Homo sapiens: one gene and its partners. The protein of the gene in region 1 purifies or fractionates together with the protein of each later gene. This does not show direct contact. Each region holds a gene or a part of one and is shown in the gene's direction. Other genes may lie near its edges.

Region 1 (4,057 bases):
TTTGAAGCCTAAGGAGGAGTTCAAGGAGATGGGAAAGGCTGGTGGGGAGGGAGGACAGGCCAAGCAGAGGAAAGAGCTCGAGGAAAGACTGAAAGATAGGAAAGTACTGTATGGACACGGTTGAATCCAGGTTACTTTTCATCAGGGCATTTAAAATGTTTCCTAATCCCAGTCTACTTTATTGATCCAAGAGCCATCCCAACGCCTTCCTGCTTGAAGGCCATCCCTCCACTCACCCAGTCTCTATCATGGTCTTATCTGCCCTCCCCACACCTCCCATCCCCAGCTCAGAAATTCAGATTTCCCCTCTTCTGATCTAAATTTTGCCAGGCAGTGTATCCCACCCAGCCTTTCTTGCACACACTCCTGTGTCTCTTCCCTGCATTCTTTGTGCCTGCTCTATGTTCAGCCTGGATGAGCCTCGCCTCCCCAGCCACTCTGAGGTTTCCCCCGAGCAGCCTCCTTGGGCCTCTCCAGGTCATGGAACACACTGTCCTCATGTTAGTGGCCCCAGCACACTTGAAAGCACATGACTATTTGCCTGGGTTTGACCCCTCATCTCACTTTTCTCTTCTCTCTCCTCTTCTTTCTGGTTTTCCCATCTTTTTCTTTGCGTGTGTATGCAGAATCGTGATGTTTACTTATGCGCAGATATAAAGGTTTCATGTGTATTTGTTGAATATCCTCGCTGTGAAAATGGATTAAAAATGTTATGCTGGAAGCCAACACATGATGCAGGCTGACGCAGGTGAGGAGAAGATTCAGGGGAAGCTCTGGCTTTAGGCTGCTTTGCTGCCTCTGGCCCCCTCTTGGGATCCCCCAATTTTACTCCTCCTCCGCAGGACCGCTGTGCTGAGGCTGGGACACCCCTTCATCATCTAGGCCTGTTTTGCTCTCTTTTCCTCCTCCTGTCAAAACTTACTTCTGTGCCCACAGCCTCGCTGGCTTGTTAGCCTCACTGGGGCCATGCTTAGTGAGCACTGGTGTGTGCAATGCTTGGGGCTTTCAGTGGTTTCTCTTTTAATCCTCCCAGCCACCTAGAAGGGAGACATCAGCATCTGCCTTGTACAGGAAGAAAGTTGAGGCTTACTTGCCTGAGGTCAGCAGCTCAGGTTTGGAGCTGAAATCTTAAACCCAGCTCTCTAAATCTGGTGTTCTTTCCACTATATCATTATTTCCTGAAACAGTTGTCTTAGGAACATCTGAATCAAAATTCAGATCTGGTGAAAGAAAACACAGGCTCCAGGGTGGAAGCAGGGCTCGAGAACTGGCGTTTTTAAGATTACCTCAGGCGATTCTTCCGCACACCCAGGTTTGGGGACCACTGCCCTGGGCTTCCTTTACAATGTGGTTCTAGCGACAGGTGGTGGGTTAATACGCCACTTTATCCCAGGCAGCATGTTCCTTTTTGACAGAGGCCCTGACTTTGACTCTAAGGAGTGAGCAATGGAGAGTTGTGGCCAAGGCCAGGAAGAGGGTCCTCTCTTTTGGCCCGAGGGGTCTTTAGTTCAGTCCTGAAGGCCCAGCCCCCTCAGCTTACTCGAAGGCATGTAAACCCACCTGCCACCAGACTCACTGTGAATTTCTTTTGGGACCTGAGCGAGTGCTCAGGGAGAAAGACCAGGGTGGGTTTGTTCAAGAGCCCCAAGTTGCTTGGTTTGGGACCCCCCGAATAGGGCTGGACAGGCAAAGCCAGCCCCTTCCTCCCTGCAGGCACGGTGAGTTGAACCTCCTTTCCCAGAATGGGATCTGGCCGTTGACAGATCTCTTTCATTCAACTGGCCTTGCTCCACTTCCTACCCACCCAGCCTCAGTTTCCCCATGTGTAACAAGAGGATGGCCAAAGTCTGGAGGGCTGGTGGGGGACCAGTGCATGGGTATGCAGAGCTTAAGGCAAAGCCCTAAGGCACATAGCAGGCGCTCAGTGTTAGTTCTCGCCCCATTTCTTTACTCTGTGCCTGATCAGTGCTTGAGACAATTGGAGCTCAATGTATTGCTGTAACAAAAATGTATATGTAATCTCAGGCCCCCTCAAATCCAGGGTTTTGTGTCTGAAGGGCACAGGGCTGAATGTTACAACTGTGTATTCAAACCCAGCAAATGAACACTCCCAGCTGCGCGGTGATAGTAATAATGAATTACCCATCCAACATCCCTGCTCGCCCCACTCCCCTTCCCCAGCTTCCCTTTAGATTGCCCAAAGAAGAACCCATGGAACAAGAGGCAGCAGTTTTGTGTATTGATGCGTTGTCTTGGGAAAGTGGTCTCTTTCTGTTGACCTCTTTTCCTGTCTACCCCGTCACCCAGCTGAGTGTACTGCCTATGTTGTCTTCTCCTACCAGCCTTTCCGAAGCTGATCACTGAGGTGTCATCCCAGGCATTGGCGCCCATTAGCCCTGCTTCTCTAGGGCGTGGTCCGAGGGCAGTGAGCCAGGTTCACAGTGCCGCTGTGTCTTGTCCCAGGAGGGTGGCACTGGGCACCCCACAACCGGGTGGGCAGCATGTGGCCTGCTCCACCCTCCTGGCCCTTGGCCAGCTGCCTAAGGCCTGGCCAGCAGTGAGGACAAAAGCACGGAGTGATTAATGGGCACCCCATCTAATCTCCTGCCAGGGGAAATGAAGGGCCAGCCATGGGCTGGGAGCTCGTCATGACCTGCTCCAGGTGGGCTTGGAATGCACCCAGCTCAGGATGGGGATTAAGGCTTGAAAGACAAGAGGAAATGAGATGTTAACCCTTTAGGCCTTGGCCCTCTGAGCCCCAGTAGGGAAATCACAGGGGAATTATCTGCAGGCATCTGATGAAAGGGGGCATCAGCTTTGATTTATGGTGGGGATGCAGCCATGTGACTACAGGGGTGGGAGGATGACGAGCTTTGACTTAACCATTTTTCTTGGAGGCACAGTCAGGAGAGAGAAGAAGATTAATTTCCCATGAAAAAGGATAAATGGACTGCTGGGAGGCTGCCCTACCTGCTTCCTTCTTGGAAACCCTCCGACCATATCAGCAAGCTACAAATTTGTAGTTGCCAGACATACTTTTCCCCCTGAAATGTCGCGTCTCTGATCACTTGTGATGTGAAGGAAGAGGGAGCCCACCTCCTTTCCCCGGCCAGGCAGCAGCGTGGTGGTGCTGAGGAGGAGAGCACTCTGGAGCCAGGTCCTGAGTTTGAGCCTTGGCTCTACCAAGTTTTGGGCCTTGAACAGGTTCCTTGGCCTCTTGGGCTGTAGTTTTTCCACCTGGAAAATGCTCAAAACTATCTCAGGCGTGTAGAAAAGTGCCACTTGAATGTTAGCTATCACTTTTTTTTTTTTTTCCCCACTTTGGCTGAGTCCTGAGCCTGCATCTCCTTTGGGAAGCACAGAAGCAACTTCTCTTCCAGGGCGCCAAGGCTTGCTTTGGGTAAATTGACAACTGACTCTTTGATTGATCTCCCTTGTTTGACCCCTGACCCTCACATGCCTTGGATTCTGTCTGGCTTGCTCCTCCCTTTGCTCCAGCTCCATGGTTTCCAGCTGCCCCTTTGATGACATTACCCTGCCCCTCGTCTCCTGCCCTCATGCTAGGTTGTCAGACTACTTGTGGGCTGGGCTGTGACATCTGTTGGGTCCTCCAGTGGTACTGGCCAATTCTGCACTGGCTCTGCTCCTTGCTAGCTTTGTTGTGACCTGATAGTCCCAAGCCAAGTGGCTGAGGGTAGAGAATGCAGCTGTCTTGAGAGGAAAATCAGGAGCCGTGGAGGCCGTCTGGCCTGGATGCAAATCCCCACTCTGCCCTGTTTTCTGGTTTCTCTGCCCTCTCATTGCCTTGTTCTTGGTGGGGGATAATAATAGTTATACTTACCTAATGATTGACAGGAGGATCAAATCCAACCGTGCACATGAGGCCGCTTGGGAATCATGTAGGGGAGTTTATTGCTGGTTGTAAGGTGAGCCCTGAGGGTAGAGCTGTGTCTTCAAGTTTTGAAGTCTCATTACAGGGCGTGTAGTGACAGTATAGCCTTTAGTTCCATTTAGTTTCTTTTCCAGAGCAGACAAGTACCCAGGACCTGCTTGACTT
Region 2 (4,057 bases), on another chromosome or scaffold:
AACTTTTAAGTACTGTTAAAATTGTTTTACATGGTAGCTACACCATTTTATATTCCCCACCAGCAATGCACAAGGATTCTAATTTCTCCACCATCTTACCAACACTTTTTATTTACCATTTTTATATTATAGTCACTCTAAGGAGTGTGAAAGTGTACCTCATGGTGGTTTTGACTTGCATTTCCCTATGACTCATGATGTTGAGCATCTTCATGGCTTATTGGCCATTTGTATATCTTCTATGGAGAAACTGCTATTCAAGTTCTTTGCCCATTTTTGAATTGGGTTGTTTGTTTTTTGTTGTTGAGTTGTAGGATTTTTTTTTTTTATGTTCTGGATTTCATCCGTTTTCAGATATATATTGTTTGCAACTTTTTCCCCATTATTTTATTTTATTTATTTATTTTTTTTTTGGAGACAGAATCTTGCTCTGTCGCCACCCAGACTGGAGTGCAGTGGCAGAATGTTGGTTCACTGCAACCTCTGCCTCCCAGGTTCAAGAGATAACTCCTGCCTCAGCCTCCCGAGTAGCTAGGACTACAGGCACACACCATCATGCCTGGTTAGTTTTTGTATTTTTAGTAGAGACAAGGTTTCACCATGTTGGCCTGGCAGGTCTCGAACTCCTGACCTCATGGGATCCACCTGCCTTGGCCTCCCAAAGTATTTTTTCCTTATTCTGTAGGTTATCTTTTTACTCTTTTCATAGTATCCTTTGATGCACAGAAGCTTTTAATTCTGATGTATTATTTTTACTCTTTACTTTTGTTTGTGCTTTTGTGTCATAACCAAGAAATCGCTGCCAAGTCCAATGTCATGAAGCTTTTTCCCTGTGTTTTCTTCTAAGAATTTTTGTGGCACTAGCCCTTAAATTAAGTCTTTGATCCATTGTGAGTTAATTTTTATATGGTATGAAATAAGGGTCCAACTTCATTATTTCATATGTGTATATTCAGTTTTCCCCCATCGAATGCTCTTGGCAACCTTGTCAAAAATCAATTGGCCATTTATAGGAGGGTTTATTCCTAGGCTTTCCATTCTGCCCCACTGGCATATGTGCCTGTCTTTATGCCAGTCCTACGCTGTTTTGAATACTGTAGCTTTGTAGTAAGTTTTGAAATCAGGAAGTGTGAGTCCTACAACCTTGTTCTTTTTAAAGATCATTTTGGCTATTTGGGAAAAACATTAATTTTAAAAAATTACTACTTGTAAGATCTGTGTGAAATTTCTACCTTCTGAAAATATGAATTCTTCTCGTTAAAATTTTCTGGGACTCTATTTCCTGCTGTTCACTAAAGTGTGTATTTATGCTCTTAATTATAGAAAGAGTATTCAAACGAAAATGCAGTTGTGAAGAGAATGCAGTCTCTTCAACTTGATTGTGTGGCAGTACCTTCAAGCCGGTCAAATTCAGGTAAATTACACTATGGTCAAAATCTATTCATTTATTTGTTTGGTTACTCATTCACTCCACTCTCTAAAAGACTATTCAGGACCATATGGGAAACAGAAGAAACTATAAAAGTGAACACCTGCCTTACAGGAATTTATAATAATATTCGAGAGTCAAGTTACATGTATTTGAAATATGAAGTAACAGTGTGCTCACCAGTCATAGAGTGTTCTGAACAAAAGGCCTAATATATCTGATGGGGAGAAGTGACAGTTCAGAAGAAGGAAGGGGACATATGTGAGAGCAAAGTCCCTGAGGAGCTCGGAGTGACTTACAGCCAGGGTACAAGCAGAGAGGCTGGTCTCAGGTCAAGTAGGGATACTTTTTTCACTGTAACAAAAGGGATGGCAGAGTATAGGATACTGAAGCCGCTTAGCTACCTGATCTGTGGCTAATTACTTAACCTCTTCTAAACTTCACTCATCAAATCATAATTGCTCCTCCTCTCATAGGGCTCTTCAAGAATGAAAGAATTCATGGGACATGCTTAGGACAGAGCTGCTGCAGATCTTTTTTTTTTGGAGACAGAGTCTGTCACCCCGGCTGGAGTGCAGTAGTGTGATCTTGGCTCACTACAACCTCCGCCTTTCAGGTTCAAGCGATTCTTCTGCCTCAGCCTCCCAAGCAGCAGGGATTACAGGCATGCACCACCATGCCCGGCTAATTTTTGTATTTTCAGTAGAGATGGGGTTTCGCCATGTTGGCCAGGCTGGTCTCGAACTCCTGACCTCAGGTGATCCGTCCGCCTCAGCCTCCCAACGTGCTAGGATTACAGGCGTGAGCCACCGCACCCAGCCACAGATCTTATTTTCCACCTGAATTGCTCCAAGGAGACAACCACCTTCTCTGCTCCAAACCAAGTCCCTTTTTTCCTTGATCATCCCTGCAACAGCCGCTTTTCTCTTGCTTGCTATAATTTTCCTAGTACTCTCTTACTGCCAGCGAGGAGCTCCTATTATTATTTGTAAAGCTTGTGGGAAGAGGACCATCTCCTAAATGCTTTGGACTGGTCTCGTACTTGTTTTCTGTGTGTTACTTTGAGATACAGATTCATGACGGCGCTCAGATTTTATTTTACTTTTTAATGTTTCATGACACCCATTCTAATGTTGATCATTTCTTCTCAGCCACAGAACAGCCTGGTTCACTGCACAGTTCCCAGGGACTTGGGATGGGTCCTGTGGAGGAGTCCTGGTTTGCTCCTTCCCTGGAGCACCCACAAGAAGAGAATGAGCCCAGCCTGCAGAGTAAACTCCAAGACGAAGCCAACTACCATCTTTATGGCAGCCGCATGGACAGGCAGACGAAACAGCAGCCCAGACAGAATGTGGCTTACAACAGAGAGGAGGAAAGGAGACGCAGGGTCTCCCATGACCCTTTTGCACAGCAAAGACCTTACGAGAATTTTCAGAATACAGAGGGAAAAGGCACTGCTTATTCCAGTGCAGCCAGTCATGGTAATGCAGTGCACCAGCCCTCAGGGCTCACCAGCCAACCTCAAGTACTGTATCAGAACAATGGATTATATAGCTCACATGGCTTTGGAACAAGACCACTGGATCCAGGAACAGCAGGTCCCAGAGTTTGGTACAGGCCAATTCCAAGTCATATGCCTAGTCTGCATAATATCCCAGTGCCTGAGACCAACTATCTAGGAAATACACCCACCATGCCATTCAGCTCCTTGCCACCAACAGGTAAATGGGTCTTCGATAGTCACAAGCTTGTCTTTTTTTATTTTTCAGAAAATACAGCAACCAAGCAGCTCTATTATAGATTGTGGGTTATAATGGGGACAGAGGGCATCATCAGCTGCCAGATGCAAATTGCCCCTGTGGAATGGACCCTGCCAAACCACTTGGTCTGGGAGTATTTCATCTGGGGCTAGGATTCATCACAGATGCCCGCAAGCATCGGGTTACAGGTCCTTGTGACTGGCAGGCATCTTTGACTCTAACCTGGAGTGCATAGTAGTCCTATTTCACCCAATCTCTGATAAATGGGAAGTTATCTGCTTATTTGCTTTTACCTTGCTTGCTACTTTTTGAAGGTAAGAAATCAGTCTTGGATATTTTTGTTTCTGACCTTATATAGCTCAAAGACTACCATTAGTGATGAAAAATTTTCTTTTAACTCCCATATCTCTATCAGGTGAAGTAAAAGGTAGGTGATAGTAGTTACTGGCAGTCTAGAATGGAAGTGAGTTAATGTAATATCCAGCATTTTTATCAAATAATACTCACCAACATCACCTTAACTACCTGAACAGCATCTACCAATGATACCCACAGGTGTCCTGGAGATCTTGAAATCATCTCAGGTAGAGGAAGCTTTCAGAACCACAGAGCTTAGTTACATTTTCTTTCAAAAGGCCAAATTCTCCAAAAACGTCCTATGCAAACATCCTCGATTTCTTCCATAGGTTTTATGATAAGATCTGTAGAATGCAAAATATTGGATTAGACATTAAGCAGTATCCAAGTCATGTATAATCCTATGAGCAGAATGTCCTTTTGTTTCCTTCATGTTGGGGATAAAATTTTTTATTAGTATTGCCATATCATTTTATTCATTCATGATTAAGTCAATAAAAATTTCAGCTGG
Region 3 (4,857 bases), on another chromosome or scaffold:
TGACCTTCCATGGTTCTTGTTCGTGAGTGGGTCTAGTAATCCACAGGATCACCAAGACCATTTTTTGGACCTCTCTGGACTGACACCCTGGGTACCTGGGTATCCCAGCTTAGGCACCAGCCGCATTGGCTGAATCCCCATGTTTCTCCAGGTCTCTGTTTCCCCATCTGTAAAATGGGGATAATGATCCCTGCTCTTCAAAGGGAGCAGGACAATCCCATAAACCTAAAAATAAATAAGGAAATAAAGATATTCATTGTGTACATCTGGTAGGTCTCAGAGCGCCCTGTTATTGTTGGGAGTTCAGGTGCAACGGCTTGGAATGCAGAGACGCGTGGACTCCTTGTGTTTCCTTAATGTTCTGACTTATTTTTCCCCAGAGGGGTGGGCCCTGGCAGCATCCCTGAGCCCCATAACTCTCCCTAACACTCTTCCTCCTCTGCCCTTTCTGTGCCCCATGGTAGGGATGGGGGCAGTCCCTGACTCCTTTGAGGGAGTTGAGCTATTGAATGGGGTCACTCATGTCCTGACTCCCACCATGGAGTCCAACAAGGCACATGCCCATTCTGTCCCCCTTAGACAAGCCAACAAGGGGTGGCCCTTCACTTGCTCCCCATGCCTACCAGGACCCTCCCCACCCCAGCACGAACTTACCCAGAACTGTGCTGGTTTAGTCAGCCCGATGACCAGTCCAGGTTATGAGGGTCCTTGGTCTCAAGGACCCAGTTAATACTGGGACTGCATTAACCCTCAAGACCTGGCTACTCTTTCTGGGCAGAGAAGCCAGGACACCAAGCGATCCCTCAAGAAGTTCACTCAGAGGGGCTTAGCCATCCTCACAGAGACACCCTGACACAGACATCCTGCCTCCCTCCCACAGACATTGCTGAGGGGTGCACACGCTTACACAGGCACCCCCTTCCCTGGTCCTCTTGGCGCTGTTCTCTCCAACACTCCCTCACTAGCCCATCAGTCACCTTACTCCTAGCACACACCCTGGACCCCCCATAGCACCCCTGCTCCCAGGGGTCCCCTACACTTGGGGATGGCCTTGAGTCGAGTATGGGTGTGGAGGACAGTTCCAGAGGGGACAGCCAGGAGGAGACTCTGTTCCTGCACACACCCCTTCTCTCCTCTTTCAGCTCAGGAGGCCTGAGTCCCTTTGAAAGGCCTGAAGCCTGGGGGAAGGTGGGCTGGACACTCCTGGGGAACCCTATGCCCTGGGATCAGGATTAACTCTTCAGGTCCTGGCCACTCTTTCTCCCAAGCCTGGCTTCTCCTTCCTCTTCCCCACTTCCCCCAGGGAAGGAGGCAGCAAATGAGTGGTGAGGGGAGCCCTTGGAAGCTGTAAATGAGGTGACTGTTGTCACCCTGAGGATGTGGCCAGGAGGAAGTGAAGTTTAACAGGTGCCTAATTACAAGTCCCGCTGGCTGTCCTGTGCCACTCTTAGGACAGGGAAGAGCTTGGGTGAGGGCTGGGTAATGCCCAGGTAGGCCACCCTGTCACCCTGCTAATTAGGGTTCCTGGGACTCCTCCCCAAGGCGGGGACCAGGCCCCCTCCCTCCCATAGAAATAACTCCAGCTGCTCCCCAGCTGGGCACTCATTGCACCTTCCTGCCACCCCAGGCAGTGTCTGGGCCCTCAGCTCCCCCTCCCTCCACCTACCCCCTCACACCCACCACTACGACCCCACGGGATACCCAGCCCAGACGGAGGAAACACCGAGCCTAGAGACATGAGAGTTGGAGGAGCATTCCACCTTCTACTCGTGTGCCTGAGCCCAGGTACGGGGCTGGGCAGGGGGCAGGGTAGCCAGCATGAGGCTAGGTGGGAAGGAAAGGGGCAGCAAGGGCTCACAGTGGAGCCTGGGGCTGCCTGAGTTGCCTGGCAGGGTGCTGCCCACCCTTGCCCTGCTGCAGCCGGGTGTGGGTATTACCAGGGGACCTTTCCCCAGGAGACCCTGTGCCTGATGTTCAGGGTGTGTGTCTGTAGTGCAGAGGTCTTTGAGTGGATCTTTATATGTCCCCTGTCGGGCTCACACATGTGTGCAGGTGCCCTGCAAGCTCATGCCGTGACTAGGAGGAGAGGGATTGATTGCTCTGCAGGAGCTGGAGGTGGGGTAGGAGAGGGGTAAGCACGGGCATTGGGTGAGGGCTCAGGAGGAGCTTGGGAAGGATCAATTTTCATCAGACTGTGTGCTATTCCCAACGCTACTCCTTCTCTCCCAAGGCCAGGGCCAAGGGGCAGGGAAGTCACTTGCCTTGAAAGGGCAAGAGACTAAGTCTGGTGTAAGTCTGAGTGGTTTCTTCCATCATGGCCAGTGACAGCTCAGGCCTGAGACCTCAGCCTTGGGCCCCCTGTGCTATGACAGGGCAGTGCCCCACTCTAGGATGAGGCCTGAGGGTGGTGGGGATGGCAACTCCAGAGACTTCTCACCCCACCAGGACAGGTCCACAGGGCAGGGCTCAAGTTTGGACATTGTGGCTTCCTGCCCAGGTTGGGGCAAGTTCCACCAAGGGGCATTCTATGCCAACATCACTGGAAAGGGCTCCGAGTCCCTCTTGCAGTCTGGATTTGGGATGAAGGGGCATGAAGGAGGAATTTGGGAAGGCGGGGTGACATTTTCAGCCTTTGTGTGAGCGTGAATGTGTATGTGAGTGTGTGGGTGCGTGCACCTGCATGGGAATGATGACATTTCCGGCAGGATAGCTGCAGCCCTTCTCTGTCTGATGAGAGCAGGGCTGGCAGAGTCCACTCGGGAGGCTCCAGCTGTGCTGTGGGGACCCGGACTTCCCCCTGTGTGGTGTGTCAATGGGTGTGTGAGGACAACTCAGCACTGGCTGCATTAACGCATCAATACCCTCAGCTGGAGCCGCCTTTTCTCCCCTCCCTTACCTCCAGAGGGAAGATCAGGAGTTCTGGAAGCACCTTGAAGATTCAGAAAGAATTTGCAAGCAGAGAGTAGGCACCACTATTGAGATGACACCCCGTAAAGCATGGCCAGTTTCTGGTGCTTTTGGGGGGCAAAGAATCACCACTGTCCTCTTCCTTGGAGAGCCCATGTGATTCCTCCATTCCTGTCTCTCCTCAAGTCTCCCATCCAGCTCTCTCTTCCACTTTGCCTTTCTTCCCTCTCTCCAGCCTCTCCTCTCACATTCCCTGTAGTACTTCCTTAGTGCTACAGCAAGAGGAATCAAGGTGAGACATTAGGAGCAACTTCCCAAGGAGAGGGAGGGGTGCGGAAAGGCTGGAACCCTTGGGAGGAGGTTGAGAAGACTTCTAAGGAGATAGAAAAGCTGGGTGAGGCTCCCTGGTCTGGGACAATTGAAGAATCTCTCAGCCTGGTGCAGGGTGGAGGTGCTTTTCTTGCAGCCTGTCGCTCCTTCCCAAGCCCCTCTCCCTGAATGCTTACCATCCTGCCTGGCAGGCTCCTATGGCATGGAGAGAGTCCTTCCTGTGTGGGTGCTTCCAGCGGTGCTTCTCCAGGGTGGAGCCTCTGCTCTCAGCCGAGTTCTGGCTCATCCCTGGCTTGCCTTGAGCAGCCTCAGGATCTGGCAGATGGCAGCAGGATCCTTATCTCAGGAATGAGCTGTTGTTCTCTTGGCCTGGAGCTGGAAGAGGCATCACTAGGTCCCGTTAGAGCCCCAGCAGTCAGCCTGCCTGCTCTGGGTCACCTTGGAGTCTAGCTGGGTTATGACAGAGCTGATGGCCCAGCCAGTGTTCCTAGGGGGGATGTTCAGGGATCCCTGAGCTGTTGAGGGTGTTGAAAGGGCCCTTGCTGGCCTCTCTGGAGCCAGGCTAAGCCTTCCTGGCAGGGCTTCCATAGATATGTCTGGTCTTGAATGAACACATACAGGGACTATATGAACACACGGTGGGTGTGTCTTTTGAATTAATATGTTCTGTGTTTGTGTGCAGATTGTGTCTGTGTCTGAATGAATCTATATAGTGTCTGTGTTTGTAGGAAGGTGGGGCCATATAGGTATGTATCTGCATTTTGAAGCCTTGTAAGAGTGGGCCACGTGCCGATTTGTTTGCCTGTGATGGTGTAATTGTGTGTGTGCATGTGTGAGATCTCTATGTGTAAACATGGTCCTGAGCCACATGATAGAACAGAATGATTGCTGAGACCTGGGGCTGTGACTCCAGAAGACATGTTGACTCAAAAAAGAACGCAGACGGAGAGTGTGTGAGGCCTGGTGAGGGGCCTGCAGAGGCAGGGTTGCTGGAGACTGGGAGGTGGAGGGCAGAGTGTCCAGGGTGGGGCCCTGGCTACACCCCCCGGTCTTATCCCTCTCTAGGTCCAACCGGTTGGGGATAGGCCTGCCTGGGGCTTCAGGGTAGGGAGGGACAAGAGCTCAGTCCTGAGCTCCTGGGTCCTGGGATCCTGGCTCCTCACCCAGGATTGCCTGCCACTGACTCAGTGGCAGGAGGGGCCTCACTGGAAGCCAGCTTGTGGGGGCAGCTGCATGCGAGCCACACAATCACATAAGAGGAAGCACACACAGTACGCAATGCTGTGTAGTCAAGAAAGACTCACAATGTCCTACAGATACCTGTGGCCATAGTCCCAGGCACACACCATCACTCACTATCACACACGAACACAGCCAGGCTCCTGGTCACAGCTGTCCACTGTCATGCACAAGCACACACTGTCACTTTTAAGCACTTACATAGCTCACATGGTCACACATCACTATACAAAACCACACAGAGGCATACAGCCACAGACTCACACTGTCATACACAGACACACATAGACACACTTAGTCTTTGGCTTCTCAGGCTGGAGAGGAGTCCCAGAAGCCATTGTAACCACCCCGCTGCCTCTGGACAGGAGGACTTCACTCAGC
Region 4 (4,057 bases), on another chromosome or scaffold:
AGGGTATCAGGTAATAAAAGACTACACTATCTTAGTGAATAATGTGTCACTTTAAAGTGGGAGTAGAAGAGCTGTTGAATGTGAGTAGCATAGGCACAGGAGGAGAAAAGGCATATCTTTGGTTATACGTAGGAGGGGATTCCAATGTGGCTGGCACTGGATCCTGACAGACAGCTGATTCTGCTCTGTAGTGGGCGAGAGTATATGGTGAAACATGGATTGGAGTTCATTTATAATCCAAAGGATTAGTTTAGACTTCTCTATTAGAATCTGTTAGAATTTCTTTCTTTGGGCTTCCCTGAAAGAAACTTAGAAAAGGATGAAGCAAGTCACGGGAGGAAGATTCAGTGATACTGACCTATCTATTCCGGAACTGTGTCTGTGAGCTCAGGTTGTCCATAGCCTGCTGCAATATGTCTAAAGATTGATCACTATAAGTTTTCTCAGGTTCTTTTTTCCCCTTGTCGGTCTTACATTTCATAGTCCTTTAGCCCTCAAGGGGCTAGAAGGCAGTTTATGACCTCTGCTACTGCATAGATGTAAGACTAAAGGTTCCAGATAATTGAAGTTCTCCTGACCTGAAATGTAAACTCTGTACAGTGGCTTTGCTGTATTCTTTCACATCCCTTTGAGTCTTTGAAGGTGAGGCGGGCCACACTAGCTGCTGTTTTCCAGATCAGGGCATGCCATTGTTTGACCTGCCACCATAAAACAGTTGTACATTCCTTTGTCTGTCTTTTGAGCTTAGGCCTCCAGACTAACCACATCAGGTCTCCCTAGTGATTTGTCTGCCCCCACCTGGGCAAGACCAAAAAGAAAAACTAAGCAGTTAGTGACATGCAGTGCAACCGGACGGAAATGGACTGTAGAATCGAAATTGTAGAGAGATGGAGAAGAAAATGTTTGGGGCTAGGATAAGTGTTCAGAATCTTAAAGTGAAGTTGTCTTTGTAAACCTCTAGGCAAAAACGAGCTGAGTTGAAAATTGAGTAAGAAAATTAAGCTGTTAGGTCTCCTAGATCTACCTGGAGGGCCAGGCTGCGAAAGATTGGTAGTGATTTTTGTAAGTAATACTCAGAGCAAGAATTGTTGGTCTCAGTGGCTACCTAAGTGTATTGAAAGCTGTCAGTAGCTACAAGACGAATGGACATGTATTCCTGTTTTTACAGATACTATTACAACAAGAGGATCCTTCATAAAACAAAAGGGAAAAGATTTACCTATAAATTTAACTTCAACAAGCTGGTGATGCCCAACTACCCATTCATCAACATTCGGTCAAGTGGTAAGATACAAACTCTTTTGGTAGGGAATTAATTTTGAATTGAAAAGAATTTTTAAAAATCCAAATCTAAGACATGGCATGTTTAGGAAGATTTTAGAAACACTAAAATAATGTGATCCTTTGGATTGCCTCAATGTTCTTACTCAAGTCATCTCACTTATAAGGAGAGTTATAGGCTATTCAGTATCAAGATAGATTTCTTTGGTTTATTTGGTTGGTTCCCTTTTCTGCATATTGTTTGTAATCTCCTAGATACTATTACGCTATCTTGTTTGGGAATGATGTTTCATAGGTTTGTGATGATCTTTACGTTCAGGACTCAGTTTTAACACCCAGCCCAGTGGTTCTTTCATAGATGGGAACCTGTTTCTACAAACACTTCCGATTTTCTGTGAAACTACCAAGCTCTCCCTTATCAAGTGAATATCATCAAAACCACAGCATCCTTGATCAGAGAAGGGGGAGGTTCACATGTTTGCAGTGAAAAGCAGTGTCTTTGATCTGCAACAGCAAATCCTCAGAGAAAAAGATTCTGGGGTTACTTGACCTTCTCTCCTGTTAAGTGCAGTAGGGCTTCCCCTCTTGACTTTCCTGGTTATAGCTTTCCATCACAGCTCCCCACATTCTCTCTTGATGTTGAAAGCAGTCTCTCAAAAGACTTTGTTGTTGTGTGGTTTTTTGTTTGTGATTTTTTTCCTTATGCAAATCATACTCCTGCCCAAGAAAATACAGTAGTTCCCCTTATCTGAGCAGTATATGTTCTAAGACCCCTAGTAGATTCGCAAACCACAGATAGTACCAAACTCCATTCATATATATGATGTTTTTTCTTCCCTTAACCCCACTCATATGTATCTGTGATAACGTTTAATTTATAAATTAGGCACAGTAAGAGATTAATGACAATAATAAAATAGAAAAATTATAACAATATGCTGTAATAAACTTAATGTGGTCTTTCTCAAAATATCTTTGTGTACTGTACAGACCTATTTTCAGACCTTTGTGGGTAACTAAAACAGTGGAAAGCAAAACCTCAGATAAGAAAGGACTACTGTAGATTGTATTTAACTGTTTTCTGACCAGTCCATCAGTAAGTACTCTGTCATTGTGGCCTTGTATGCTAAGGCAAAGAATGCTGATCATGCAGTAATACAACTTCTCAGAAAAGCTGGAAGAAACCTGAAAAATTAGTGGGGGTGTGGTTGAGAGAACATAATGTTGAGATCCATTGCAGATATGTAATTACTACACAACAAGTTAGGGCAGTTTTAGCTTGACTCTGCTATCATTACAGTTTCATCTCAACTTCTGTAACCACTCCCTCCTGTCCCTGGGGCATGCATTTAAAAAAAAAAAAAAAAGTGGTATTGGAATGCATCTCTCTAATTACAACCTGTTTTCTTTCCTTGTGCCTGAGGGAGAGGCGTTAGGAAATCAGACCTGTACTCGCCACTCAAATCTTGCTTCCTCTGTTTCTCACTCTTGCCCCTTCCTTGTATGCCTAGAGGAATTGGGAATCTAGATGTATATACCAACAATTTTAAAGAATTTGTTGGTTTTCATACCCCTTCACCCCACTCCCAAAAAAATGTTTCATTCGTCTTGTTCTTCTGTCTTTGACCCATTTTTATCTATTGAAAATCCAGAACTTCAGCCACTTGGACAACCTAGAATGGGGCATTCATAAGCCCTGGGAAGTAATGTGGTTTTCCAGGGCAAGGAAACCTGGATCCTCACTCTGTGAAGAATCTGATCTAGAAACCTAACAATAGTGGCCCAGCACACCTGTTCTGCCCGAAGGCGATTGAACCAACATTGATCTTTAACCCAAGCTCAAGATCCTAATCAAAAAGCCACAAGGGGCCGGGCCAGGTGGCTCATGCCTATAATCCCAACACTTTGGGAGGCCAAGGCCGGCAGATCACTTGAGGTCAGGAGTTCAAGACCAGCCTGGCCAACATGGGGAAACCCCCATGTCTACTAAAAGTACAGGTGGCAGTCACCTGTAGTCCTAGCTACTCAGGAGGCCAAGGCAGGAGAATCACTTGAACCTGGGAGGCAGAGGTCGCAGTGAGCTGAGATCATGCCACTACACTCCAGCCTGGGCGACAGCGAGACTCAGTCTCAATAAAGCACAAGGAAAGCAAAACTGTGTACATTTCTTTTAGTACATCTATCTCTACTACCTGGTTGCTCACATCCTAGGTATAGACAACTGCAAAGAACTGGTGTCATTAGTTTTTAAAGAACTTTTGACCAGAGAGGCCAAATGTTGTTTAAGGTAACTTTATGATAACAAAGGAATGTAACATTTATTGAACATCTGCTTTATGGAGGTACTTTTGCTTAGTAGTTTTGTGAATTACGTTATTCAACTTTTCAGCCCAGTGAAGTGAATGTCTTGATATCCACATTTTACAAATGATAAAATTAGGAAAACGACAGCAAAGTTAAAGACTGATCAGGGTAGGTTGAATAGTTATCTATTGAACAGTTTCTAGGGAAACAATTCCTGAGAGATCGAGCTGTTGAAGTCTAGCCCTTATTTAATAGATCATACATTCCTCCTCTAGGTTGTGATTCATTTGTTCAACAGATAATGGGAGTTCTTTACCTCACGGAACTTACAGTTTAGCAGGAGAGATAAGATATGCCGGGTTTAATACAATGTGAAATGTGATAAGTACTCTAAATAGAGCTGTGTGGATTTAGATCCTGGAGGCCATTGAGATCATGTCCACAAGGTGGGTTGAGACAGTTGGGGTATTCT
Region 5 (4,057 bases), on another chromosome or scaffold:
AGCCGAGGAATTTAAATAATTCTTGAAAGGACTATTTGGCTTTATTTGTTTCCTGGTGTACTAGGGCAAAATAAAATATGCCGACCATTGAACACTTTAGTATTTTTATAGCTGTATCAGAAGGAAGTTAATTTAATGCAAAGGCTTAGGAGGCAGTTTTAGGATCACAGAATTTTAGATCTGGAAATCTCTCCCCAAACTCAAAATTTTATACTCTGTTATACACACCTTTCATATAAAGTTGACCATATTTTGTCTTGAGGAAAAAAAAAAATGTTTTCACCAATAAAATAAACTGCAAAGAAGAGACCTGGACCCAGACTGTTTTACTCAGTGAAACTTCAACCTAGCTTCAACCTTGGCTTTTCCAGGTCCCACTTTGACTCTGTATCTTTCCCTTTTACTTTTCACTTAGAATGCTTTGTAAACTTTCCTAGGAGTCCTCAAGGTCTCGTGGGCTTTCTCCAGTTTGGTAAATATTAAAGGCAACTCCTCTGGGGATGTCTAATTGCAAGGTTGGAAATCTGCCTCTGTCCAAACAATGCCAAAATTCTGGTCCAAACGGGAGGTTCTGTTCATAAGCAACAAAGTTATCATTTGTGTTTTGCCCCACCAAGCATTGCCACAATAGACCAAGCCCCAGCTGTGCCTGTAGCCTCTTAGTGTGTGGAAGGAGGTTGATGAAAGGTAGGGGTTCTAGGCTGGCAACACATAGAGTTGGGACTATTTCCTATCACATGCATAGAAAGTAGAAAGTTAATGTACATGAATGATGTATCAATAATGTTAAATCATTACAGTGGAAATTGCAGTGTTCCAAAATAATAAGTAACAAGCTAACCTAAGGAGAGTAGAATTCTGGCTTCCAACTGGCTGAATTCTACAGTCTTACATCAAACAGAAGTCTTATATTTGACTTGATCAAAGGCCACCATCCTCGTCCCTAATAGTGTAAACCAGTTAAATCTCTGTTATTATTATTACTATTATTATTTGAGACATTTTATCCTAATGAAAAGTCCACCAAACTGGGAGTTCAAAGATTGGGTTATAAGTCCCAGCTACTCAGGAGGCAGAGGTAGGAGGATTGCTTGGGCCCAGGAGTTTTGGGTCCAGCCTGAAGAACAGAGAGAGGCCCATCTCTTAAAGAAAAAAAAGGATTGGGTGGTTATAGTCTCAAATTGGGGAATATTAACAACTAGTAATGCCACTAATAAGGTTGTTGTGAGGAACAAAAGAGACGTGAAAACACTATATAAAAAACCTTTGTGAATTTTAGTGTTTTATTATCAGTACTGGAAATAGCATTAATACTTGCTTTCTAAATGGGGAAACAGTCTCTCTGTTTCTCGTATTTTTAGTTAAGAGGGCTTTTAAAATTTGCTGTCTTCTGTGATATCTGTAACAATCCTGCAAAAGTGGCAGAGAGAAGAGATTTTGCTTCTTTGTTCTATGTACTGGGGGGTTAGGAGAGAAATAAGAATTTTTTAAAAGTCTGACAACTGAAAAAAAAAAATATATATATATATATATTTCAAAATCCAAACTAACAACCTTACTTTAAGTCTTCGCAAAAAAGTAAACTCAGAGTTACTGGTTTCAAAGTTTAGTGTGCATGAGCTATTTGGGATGCTTGTTGAAAAGGTAAATTCCTAGACCCCAGCCTTAGAGATGCTGAGTCACTGGTTCTCGATGGCACAGTATCTGATTCTGATGCAGACAGTCCCAGGACCACTATTAGCAACACTGTCTCCAGGATGCACGGACAGTTGTAGGAGTTGAGAGTAGGGGGAACTTGCTGTTTTTCTTCCAACAGAAAGAGAAGGATTCATGACTTGGCTAGTGTTTTGGGTACTGCGTGATCTAAATGTTTTGAACTAGGATGAGGTGGAGAGAAAAAAAAAAGAGGTCATTTCTAGGCACAGAAGATTGCCAGGGAGCCGACTCCATCCAGAACAGAGAATTGGGAAGCAGTTAGAGATGGCATCATCATGAAAAATGGTTAGAGAAAAAAAAAAGGAGAATGAAGGGATATGAAGGAAGTGAAGTGGTCCCAAGAGTCCAGGTGACATCTTCCATGAAACTTACTCTGAAGCAACTGTTCATTTATACTCCTTCAACCTGAGAGCACACACATTTTTCTCCATTTTATTTCAAGAATACTTGGAGAAATTGATGCACCTTTACCCCTATCATAGAAAGCTAATTGCACAACCAAGATAGAATTTTAGAATCAACAGGTATTTACAGGCACAGTATTTACTATGTATGGGAGATGGTGTTAAGTGCTATGAGGGGTAGTCCTGGCACTTAATGGTTATATGCCTCTCTCTCATTAACAATGTCTTAGACAAATCGAGTATAATACAAATCGAGTGTAATAATACAATTGACACATTGGGGGCTGCTTCTTGAAATAGCACTTAAAAACTCTGGAGAAACGACCGCATTTGAATATTTTCACTAAAACTTTTTGTGCTTTAGCTGTATAAAAAGCACGGTTTTGAACCCAAAGTTTGAACTTAGCGTCTTGGTCTGCTGTAAAAATCTCAGATGGGCATGCCTTGGGACATATATCAGCATCTCAAAACTAGTTTGCATTGGGGGACTTGCCTTCAAGGTAAACATATTTCCTTTTAATTAAGTGTGCCAGCTGACAAAGCAGCTATACACAGACCAGGCAGGAGTTGAAGACGTGTACACTGTTAAAAGATGTCATCTTGTAAGCAGCTAAACATCTCCATCCGTGGAAAAGCCGCCAGCCTGAGGAACTAAGTGAACATAATTAGAAATACATCTGGGTATTGGCCTCCTATCTGAAAAGGTCACATGCACACCTTCCATTGGTACTGGTTATGTTCCATCATTATGTTCCGTCCTTGCTCATTCGTCTCCCACTGGTTACCAGATGGCCATGATAATGTCGGTATCCTTAACAACTGTCTAGTGCAATTCCCTGCAGCATGGTAAGGGCTTGAAATATTGAGTGTTTTCCCTTTGGAGAAGCAAGTGACATGTCTGGGAATTGCTTACAACCGCTCTGATGGGGTGGTTGCGGAGTGATGGCAAACTGGGTCATGGAGCCTAAATTCAGCTTGATGTTGTACAGGTGGAGGCCACCAAAGCACGGTGTTTGCCATTTCTCAAGCTTAAGATGAAGGAAGGCTTCATCCATGCAGAATCTGGTGTTTACAAATGAGCACAAAATAAAGTGAGGTGTAAATAAGCATTAAGATCATTATAAGAGGAAGCTTCGCTAAATTTGCTGAAATGTTCCCCTGAGTTAAGGTGGTTTTGATAGAACTCTCTCACAAGAATGCTTAGGGAGTCCTCCCAGCATGGTTCTCTGAGGTGTGCCAAGTTACCAGATGGATTTGAGGAACGTTAAAAGAGAGGAGTATGGGTATGGGGAGGGTGGAGAAGGTGGGTGTATCAATCAAGTTGGGCTAGATCATGCTGCAATAACAAATGACCCCCAAATCACCACTGCTTTAGAACAACAAAGGTTTATTTTCTGCTTATGTTATATGTCTCTTTTGGATCAACCAGGGGTTCTGCTTCATGTTAATTTTACTCCAAGACCCAGACTGGCAGAGTTGCCACTATCCTGGGACATTATAGATGGTCACAGCAAAGACAAAGAGAGATTGTGGTCAGTGGTACACTGGGTCTTAAAGCAACCATCCACTTCTGTCATATTTCATTGGCCAAGGAAAGTCACAAGGCCACTGGCCTCCAAGAGAGTGAGGCACACAGGCTTTCCACAGGCCCAAAAGGAGAACAGGAAATAGTTGCTGAACAGCACTCATGACCCCAGAGCAGATGGCGATGCATTTTAGACCCATGGACATCTTTGGGGCCAGATGACCTTTTCAGAGGCTCCAAGCACTGAAAAGATTATACAGATGCTTGTTGACTTTCTATGGGGTTACAGCCCAACAAACCAATTGTAAGCTGAAAATATCAAGTCGAAAAGGCATTGAATACACCTAACCTACTGAACACATAGCTTTCCTAGCCTACCTTAAACGGGCTTGTAACATTTGCCATAGCCTAC
Region 6 (4,057 bases), on another chromosome or scaffold:
TCTGGGTGAATTGTATTGAGAATGCACTGGTTTTAGAATACATTTTTCCCAGGCTGGGCGCGGTGGCTCACGCCTGTAATCGCAGCACTTTGGGAGGCTGAGGTGGGCGGATCGCTTGAGGTCAGGAGTTTGAGACCAGCCTGGCCAACATGGTGAAACCCCATCTTTACTAAAAATACAAAAATTAGCTGGGCGTGGTGGCACACACCTGTAATCCCAGCCACTATGGATGGAGGCTGAGACAGGAGAATTGCTTGAGTCTGCGAGGCGGAGGTTGCGGTGAGCCAAGATCACGCCACTGTACTCCAGCCTGGGTGACTGCGAGACTCCGTCTCAAAAAACAAAAACAAAAACAAAAAACAACAACAACAAAGGATACATTTAAGAAAAAAAAAAGGATACACTTTTCCCCATTTTTTATATGGCCTTGGGATTTATGCTATCAATTATAGTTTAATCTCCTGAAATTTTTATAGTAGTTATATGTGTGTGTGTGTTTGCCTGTAAGAGAAAGAGAGATGGGGGAGAGATAATGCATATAGAGGATGGTCAGTCATCATAATCACAGTTACTCTTTATGGAATTCCTGTTTTGTACCTGGCCCTAAGTATTCTGCGTACATTATTTTGTTGCATCCTTTCAGCAGATCACATTTATTATAGGTAGTAAATGGCCTGAATGTGATGGAGCTAGGATTGGAATGTAGATTCATCTTATTCTTCATCATCATTATCCTCACCATAATCATCATCAAAACATTTATTCCACACTTACCACATATTAGGCACTGGGCTAATTATACGTATCTACATTATTTTATTTAATTCTTATAACAATCCTATGAGATAGATGTTATTATTAGTCACATTTTTTCTGATGAAGTACCTAAGAGTTAGTTCAATAACTTGGTCAATATGCCACAGCTGTTAGATGGTGGAGCTGAGACCTGTTCTATTCCACTAACTCTGTGTCCCCAAGTTGTATAATTCACATAATGTTCTCTAGGAATGGGACCCTTTGGATCTCCACTAAAAGCATGTTACCTCCCGAGGTTCTGCAATATTGTTGGCCCTGCAGAGGGTGCACTTTTTGTTTTTTTTGAGATGGAGTCTCGCTCTGTTGCCCAGGCTGGAGTGCAGTGGCGCAGTCTCGGCTCACTGCAAGCTCCGCCTCCCAGGTTCACGCCATTCTCCTGCCTCATCCTCCCGAGTAGCTGGGACCACAGGTGCTCGCCACCACACCCGGCTAATTTTTTTGTGTTTTTTAGTAGAGACGGGGTTTCACCGTGTTAGCCAGGATGGTCTCGATCTCCTGACCTTGTGATCTACTTGCCTCAGCCTCCCAAAGTGCTGGGATTACAGGAGTGAGCCACTGCACCCGGCCTGCAGAGGGTATACTTTTAACCACTATGTTCTTTCTACTACCATGCTGCTTCCTTTAGAAGTCAGTAAATTATACAACTTTAGATCTTTATAAGGAAGGGCTAAGTAGCCTGCAGCTGTCATTTCTTAGTTCTTATAATTTGTCAATTATAACAAAGTGAAACGTGCCTTTTTGTTTTCTTTCCAACTACTTTTTAACAAATTTTAGACAAATTTGTTATACATGACAGTTATCTAAGTTCTTGTGCAGGAAAAATAAGACTTTTTGTCCTTTATCAGCATACAATTCTTCTGTTGTACATGATGTAATAGTTTGAAGCTGCCAAAGTCCAGCCCTCAGGAAATTGTTTGAGTTGAGTAACTATTCGCTGGAGAGTTTAAGATAACCAGCTCATAAATCAACAAATAGCTTGGCCCTTTTTATGGTTGTAGATGCTTATCTCTTTCTATTTTCAAGCTTGAATCAGAAGCAAATATTGTTTCCATTTATATAGTCACTATTAGAAAAAGTTGTCAGCAGTATCTCAAGCTAGATAAGGCCATTTTGTGAGTTCTTTTCTTTAAGGAGAGTCAGAATTTATCAGGATGTTAGAATTGGTTGTTCTAGGCTAGGTACCTTCAAACAAAAAGTTTTCTCTTTCAATGAAACTGTCAGTGATTCAATGCCTATTATATTCAACCTCTGTGTGGAATTAGAAAGATGCCCTTAAGACAAAATGTAGTCCACGTACCCAAATAACTGTAACATGAGGGAGAATGTGAGTATTGTAATCCAAACCCCACCATGCACTGAGAGCACAGAGGAGGATGAAATAAATTGGGAGATTGGAAAGGTGAGAGGGTGAGAGAATGATCTGGGAAGGCTTTTCCTTGTAGGATAGTTAAGATTTTCAGCAAGAATAAATGGAGAGGAAAGGCATTCCAGAGAGAGGCAATATTAGAGTCAAGACAATGAGAAAGTAAAGGACAGGGTATATTTGTTATAAAGAAAGGAGTCTAGTGTACTTGGAGTGGAGGATGAGTGAGAGGCACATAATGGATGATCAATGAAATGTTTGATCAGTGAGTGAATGAGTAGATGAAGCTGGAAATGGTGGTAAGGTCCGGTGATTCTCAAACTTTACGCTGGTGCCAGACATATTTAATTCTATCTTATAATTAGGAATTAATTTTTTTTTTCTTTGAGCTGGAGTCTTGCTCTGTCACCAGGCTAGAGTGCAGTGGTGCGATCTTGGCTCACTGCAACCTCTGCCTCCCGGGTTCAAGATTCTCCTGCCTCAGCCTCCTGGGACTACAGGCACGCGCCACCACGCCCAGCTAATTTTTGTATTTTTAGTAGAGACGGGGTTTCACCATGTTGGCCAGGATGATCTTGATCTCTTGACCTCGTGATCTGCCCACCTCAGCCTCCTAAAATGCTGGGATTACAGGTGTGAGCCACTGTGCCTGGCCAGGAATTAATTTTATTGGCAGAATATGTGAATATCAAAAATATGCAGCATAAAAATCACAATCATGAACATGATTCAGTGATATGATTTGGATGTTTGTTCCCTCAAATCTAATGCTGAAATGTGATCCCCAATGTTGGGGCCTAGTGGAAGGTATTAGATCATGGGGGTGGATCCCTCATGAATAGCTCAGTGATGAGTGAGTTCTCACTCAGTTAATTCACACAAGATCTGGTTGTTTAAGAGAGCCTGAGACCTCTCCCTTGTCTCTCTCGCCATGTGACACCTGGGCTTCCCTTTGCGGTCTGTCATGATCGTAAGCTCCCTGAGGCCTTGCCAGAAGCTGAGCAGATGCTGGTGCCATGCTTCCCATACACAGTGCAGAACCATTAGCTGATTAACTTCTTTTCTTTATAAATTACCCAGCCTTGGGTATTTCTTTATAGCAGTGCAAACATGGCTTAACACTGTCAGTTAGGAAAAAAGGTGTTAAAATAGTTCCAATTGACTGCTTTGATTTTTTTCCCTCTTAATTTTGCTACTATTTGTTCAAGTTTCTGTAGTGCTAGCAGTAGACTAAGTAGGTAAGAAAAAATTATGGTAGAGAAACTTATGAAAAATCCATCTATTAATTTTCTTTCCTGTGAATTAGAAAAATACCATTGTTCTTTTCCAGCCAAAAGAATATCTCCCTCTAGGAGCCATTAAATATTTTGAAAAGGAGTGACATGGTGTGGAATGTGTTTTAGGAGTCAGGTGGTAGTGACATGTAGGATTAGAGGACTGGCAATGAGTCAGTAATGTGGTGCAGTGGTCCAGATGTGGTGAGGATCTGAACCTTAGTAGCAGCAGCAGTGAAAATAGAATGAAAGGAAATAGAGATCCACACCAGGCCCTCTGTTTCTAAATAGGAAATAGTTACCAATTATTAACCAGCTTTCATATTGTTAGGATATTACGGGTCTCAATGGTCGGTTATCTCTGGTCTCAAGTCCTTTCACTCTATTTTTAGGGAAAATGTGTTTAAACCCCTATTTTAAGGAAATGATAGTTTATAGATTATTTATAAATTATAGTTAATTTAGAAAATAGAAAAAAGGAAAAAAATCCATAATTTCATCATCCTAACAAGACCGCTATCATTTTACATTTACTTACCCCGATGTTGCTGAGTTTTAAACTTCTCTGTTAATTCATTCTGCGCACATTTAGCTCTGAGAAACA
Region 7 (4,057 bases), on another chromosome or scaffold:
CTAATTTGTTTCTAATAAACAGAATACAAAAGAAGAGATAAGATGTCACTCCCAAAATTACATTTTTAAAAGAGCATGGCTTGGCCTGGTGCGGTGGCCCACGCCCGTAATCCCAGCACTTTGGGAGGCCGAGGCGGGCAGATCACGAGGTCAGGAAATCGAGACCATCCTGGCTAACACAGTGAAACCCCATCTCTACTAAAAATAGAAAAAAATTAGCCGGGCCTGGCGGCGTGCGCCTGTAGTCCCAGCTGCTGGGGAGGCTGAGGCAGGAGAATGGCATGAACCTGGGAGGTAGAGCTTGCAGTGAGCTGAGATCGTGCCACTGCACTCCAGTCTGGGTGACAGAGTAAGACTCCGTCTCAAAAATAAATAAATTAATTAAATTAAAGAGCATGGCTTCTGTCTTAGGTGTTCTCTCACACATGATGGCTTACTTCGGGGAAAGAGCTACCATGATGTAAAGCAGCACTGTGGAGAGGTCCACCTGAATGAGCTTAGAAGCAGATTTTTGAGACTAGCCAATAGCTGTGTGAAGGAACTTGGAAGTGGATTCTCCACCAGTCAAGACTTGAGATGACTAAAGCCTCAACTGATAACTTCATTGCAGCCTACAGAGAGGCCCTGAGTCAGAACTACCCACCTAAACTGCTCCTGATTCCTAATCAACAGAAATTGTGACATAACAAATGTTGTTTTAAGCTGCTAAGTTACAACAGCAATAGATAACTAATACATGTTATGTCAGAATAACACATTGATTGAGACCATCCTGGCTAACACGGTGAAACCCCGTCTCTACTAAGTACAAAAAATTAGCTGGGTGTGGTGGCTGGTGCCTGTAGTCCCAGCTACTCGGGGGGCTGAGGCAGGAGAATGGCGTGAACCCAGGAGGCGGAGCTTGCAGTGAGCCGAGATCGCGCCACTGCACTCCAGCCTGGGCAAGAGAGCGAGACTCCGTCTCAAAAAAAAAAAAAAAAAAAAAAAAGCAGAAAAAAACTGCCCTCATTCTAAGTCATCAGTTTTGTTGCTTTCATCTAAAGACAGGAAAATGAACTACAAATCTACAAAAAGTTTATACGTGTGTTTCTGCATCATAAAAAACAGATATTTATAGATATTCGCAAAATTTTGAGACCACATTCAGGATGGCCTCAATTAAGACATAAGCTTCTATGGCATAAACAAACCTCATTTGAGGATGTTGTTTCTCAGACATACAGGTGGTCTTACTCTGCAGCAGCTGAAACTGAAGCACAAGAAGCCCTTGGAACTATCATCAGGACATGTAAGTCCCATGTACTAAAATACTTGGGCCAGAGAAAACCAAGTATAGTTTAAATAGGAGTTTCCCCTCCCCTAAAATCCAAAGTCACTAAGGAGGAACTTCAAGACTGCAGGCATTGGTTGCAGTGGAGATTTTTCTCTGTGTAGCAAGCACCAAGGTGAGCAGAGCCTTTAATTAAGAATAGTTAGTAATTTTGCCAAGAAATGGTAGGGGGACCATCTGATATATAGGATGGTTCAAATTCCATAAACATTATTTATTTATTTATTTATTTTGAATTTTTGTATTTTTTTTTATTTTATTTTGAGACGGAGTCTCACCCTATTGCCTAGGCTGGAGTGCAATGGCATGATCTTGGCTCATCACAACCTCCACTTCCCGGGTTTAAGTGATTCTCCTGCCTCAGCCTCCAGAGTAGCTGGGATTACAGGCACCTACCACCACACCCAGCTAATTTTTGTACTTTTAGTAGAAACGGGGTTTCACCATGTTGGCCAGGCTCTTCTCAAGCTCTTGACTTCGTGATCCACCCACCTCGGCCTCCCAAAGTGCTGGGATTACAGGCATGAGCCACCGCGCCCAGCCCTCCATAAACATTTATAATGTATACTGTGTGTCAAGCACAGAGGTTGGTAATATGAATGAATAAAGATACAGTTCCTACTCTAGAAGAACTTATACTCTAAAAGAGGAGTGAGACTTTTGTATATTTTAAAATTAAAATTAAAAAACTTGTATTAGTTTCCTATTGCTTCTATAACAAATTACCACATATTTAGAGACTTAAAACAACAAATCATCTTATGGTGGAGATCAGAAGTCCAAAATGGGTTTCCCTGGGCTAAAATCAAGGTGTTGGCAGGGCTACATTCCTTCTGGAGTTTATGGGGGTGAATCTGTTTCCTTGTCTTTTCTAGCGTCTAGATACTGCTGTGTTCCTTGGCTTCTGGCCTCTTCCTCCATTTTTAAAGCCAGCAGTGTAGCATCTTCTGATTATGACACTACTATCTCCTTCTCATAAGGACCCTTGTGATTACATTGGGCCCACTGGGATAATCCAGGATAATCTTCCCATCTCAAAATCCTTATACACATTAGCAAAATGTGGTAAAAACTGAAGACCTAACAAAGATTCATGGTTGTGTGGCTGAATATATTCATGTTAAGAGAATGAAAAAGGCAAGTCCAAGACTGGGAAAAAATTTAAAACCTGTATCTGATAAAAGTCTGTGTCCAGAATATATAAAGAACTCTTATAACCTGATTTTTAAAAATGGGGGAAGTATTTGAAAAGACGGTTCTATCAAAGAACATACATGAATGACAAATAATACAAAATAAAACTACAATGAGATGTTATGACCCTACCACTCAAATGGCTACAGTTAAACATTGACTATCCTATATTTCACCAAGAATGCAGTGCAACTGGAACTCTCAGTTACAGTTTTCATAAAATTTACATACTCTTCTAATACAAGCCATCAGTCCTTGCTCTGAGGTGTTTACTTAAGTCAAATTATGTATACACAAAGACTAGTACATAAATATTCATAGTAGCTTTATTCATAATAGCCAAAAACTAAAAACAGTTTTGTGATTATGATACTGATATATGTATGAACTTAGCAATAAAACTGAATGAACTGAAATAGAGAACAACATGGATGAATCAAAGAAGCATTATGCTAAGGGAAAGAAGCTAGACACAAAAGATGACATACTATGTGATTCCATTATATGAAATCTGGAGAAGACCAAACTATAATGACAGAAAGCCTATTCATGGTAACTAGGGCTAGGAGCAGGTAATTATCTGCAAAGAGACGAGGAAGCTTTTTGGAATGATAGAAATGTTCTACATCTTAATTATGGTGGAGGTTATGACTGCACTTTTTAAAATTCATCAAACTGTACAACAAAATTGGTAAATTTCGTTGAATGTAAATTATGCCTAAACAAGGCTGAATGAAAACATCTGTCTATACATACAAGCACAAATCCAGTTAAGCAGTTTGCTAATCTTAAACTCACACTTGGAACAATTATGCTTTTTTTAACCTCCAAGGTAATGTGTGAATAAATCTGAGCTCTTTTGGAATAGGTTTATGTATACAAATACTATGAAATTCAGAGGAAAAGCTCTTTCTACTTGGACTTATGAGCAGAAGACAGAATTTTTGAGCTTCCTCCTTTGAGCTTCCTCCTTTGAGCTGGAGTTGCAAGGAAAATTTCTTTTTTTTTTTTTTTTTTGAGACAGAGTCTGGCTCTGTCACCCCGTCTGGAGTGCAATGGTGCAATCTTGGCTCACTGCAACTTCTGCCTCCCGGGTTCAAGCAATTCTCCTGCCTCAGCCTCCGGAGTAGCTGGGATTATAGGCGTACGTCACCACACCCGGCTAATTTTTGTATTTTTAGTAGAGATGGGGTTTTACCATGTTGGCCAGGCTGGTCTTGAACTCCCGACCTCAAGCAATCCACCTGACTCAGCCTCCCAAAGTGCGGGGATTACAGGCATGAGGCACCACGCCTGGCCAAGAAAAAATTTTAAAAACTTTCTAGCTTCTTTATGATGACATCAGAGGATTGGAATTAGAAGGGGGAAGGGTGACCTAAGAAGAATAACTGAAGTGGAGAATCTGAAAGGAGGCCAGACTATTGGAGAGGGAGTTCCACTGGGCTGCAGGAAAGCATAAGATTGCCTTGGTAAAGTGAGCTCCAATCATGGTGTACCTTAAGTTCTAGAACGAGGAATAAGGAATTGATTAGT

Evidence for each region.
Region 2: the proteins of THSD4 (region 1) and RIPK1 purify together in Homo sapiens (affinity purification with mass spectrometry; 2 studies listed by BioGRID and IntAct, with this or other methods). This does not show direct contact.
Region 3: the proteins of THSD4 (region 1) and VSIG8 purify together in Homo sapiens (affinity purification with mass spectrometry; 2 studies listed by BioGRID and IntAct, with this or other methods). This does not show direct contact.
Region 4: the proteins of THSD4 (region 1) and ETV3 purify together in Homo sapiens (affinity purification with mass spectrometry; one large-scale study listed by BioGRID and IntAct). This does not show direct contact.
Region 5: the proteins of THSD4 (region 1) and ARID5B purify together in Homo sapiens (affinity purification with mass spectrometry; one large-scale study listed by BioGRID and IntAct). This does not show direct contact.
Region 6: the proteins of THSD4 (region 1) and USP54 purify together in Homo sapiens (affinity purification with mass spectrometry; 2 studies listed by BioGRID and IntAct, with this or other methods). This does not show direct contact.
Region 7: the proteins of THSD4 (region 1) and MLF1 purify together in Homo sapiens (affinity purification with mass spectrometry; 2 studies listed by BioGRID and IntAct, with this or other methods). This does not show direct contact.

The regions. Positions count from the first base shown.
Region 1 is NC_000015.10:71,118,064-71,122,120, forward strand, and holds part of THSD4 (thrombospondin type-1 domain-containing protein 4 isoform 1 precursor), read left to right. Parts: intron 1-4,057. UniProt on the Homo sapiens protein: Promotes FBN1 matrix assembly.
Region 2 is NC_000006.12:3,102,902-3,106,958, forward strand, and holds part of RIPK1 (receptor-interacting serine/threonine-protein kinase 1), read left to right. Parts: intron 1-1,323; coding exon 1,324-1,414; intron 1,415-2,520; exon of another isoform or gene 2,521-2,580; coding exon 2,581-3,150; exon of another isoform or gene 3,151-3,890; intron 3,891-4,057. UniProt on the Homo sapiens protein: Serine-threonine kinase which is a key regulator of TNF-mediated apoptosis, necroptosis and inflammatory pathways.
Region 3 is NC_000001.11:159,859,401-159,864,257, reverse strand, and holds the start of VSIG8 (V-set and immunoglobulin domain-containing protein 8 precursor), read left to right. Parts: upstream 1-1,600; 5' UTR 1,601-1,736; coding exon 1,737-1,785; exon of another isoform or gene 1,786-3,612; intron 3,613-4,857.
Region 4 is NC_000001.11:157,131,339-157,135,395, reverse strand, and holds part of ETV3 (ETS translocation variant 3), read left to right. Parts: intron 1-1,168; coding exon 1,169-1,284; coding exon of another isoform or gene 1,285-1,316; exon of another isoform or gene 1,317-2,251; intron 2,252-4,057. UniProt on the Homo sapiens protein: Transcriptional repressor that contribute to growth arrest during terminal macrophage differentiation by repressing target genes involved in Ras-dependent proliferation. Represses MMP1 promoter activity.
Region 5 is NC_000010.11:61,995,381-61,999,437, forward strand, and holds part of ARID5B (AT-rich interactive domain-containing protein 5B), read left to right. Parts: intron 1-2,686; exon of another isoform or gene 2,687-2,771; intron 2,772-4,057. UniProt on the Homo sapiens protein: Transcription coactivator that binds to the 5'-AATA[CT]-3' core sequence and plays a key role in adipogenesis and liver development.
Region 6 is NC_000010.11:73,584,518-73,588,574, reverse strand, and holds part of USP54 (ubiquitin carboxyl-terminal hydrolase 54), read left to right. Parts: intron 1-4,057.
Region 7 is NC_000003.12:158,587,637-158,591,693, forward strand, and holds part of MLF1 (myeloid leukemia factor 1), read left to right. Parts: intron 1-1,215; coding exon of another isoform or gene 1,216-1,288; intron 1,289-4,057. UniProt on the Homo sapiens protein: Involved in lineage commitment of primary hemopoietic progenitors by restricting erythroid formation and enhancing myeloid formation.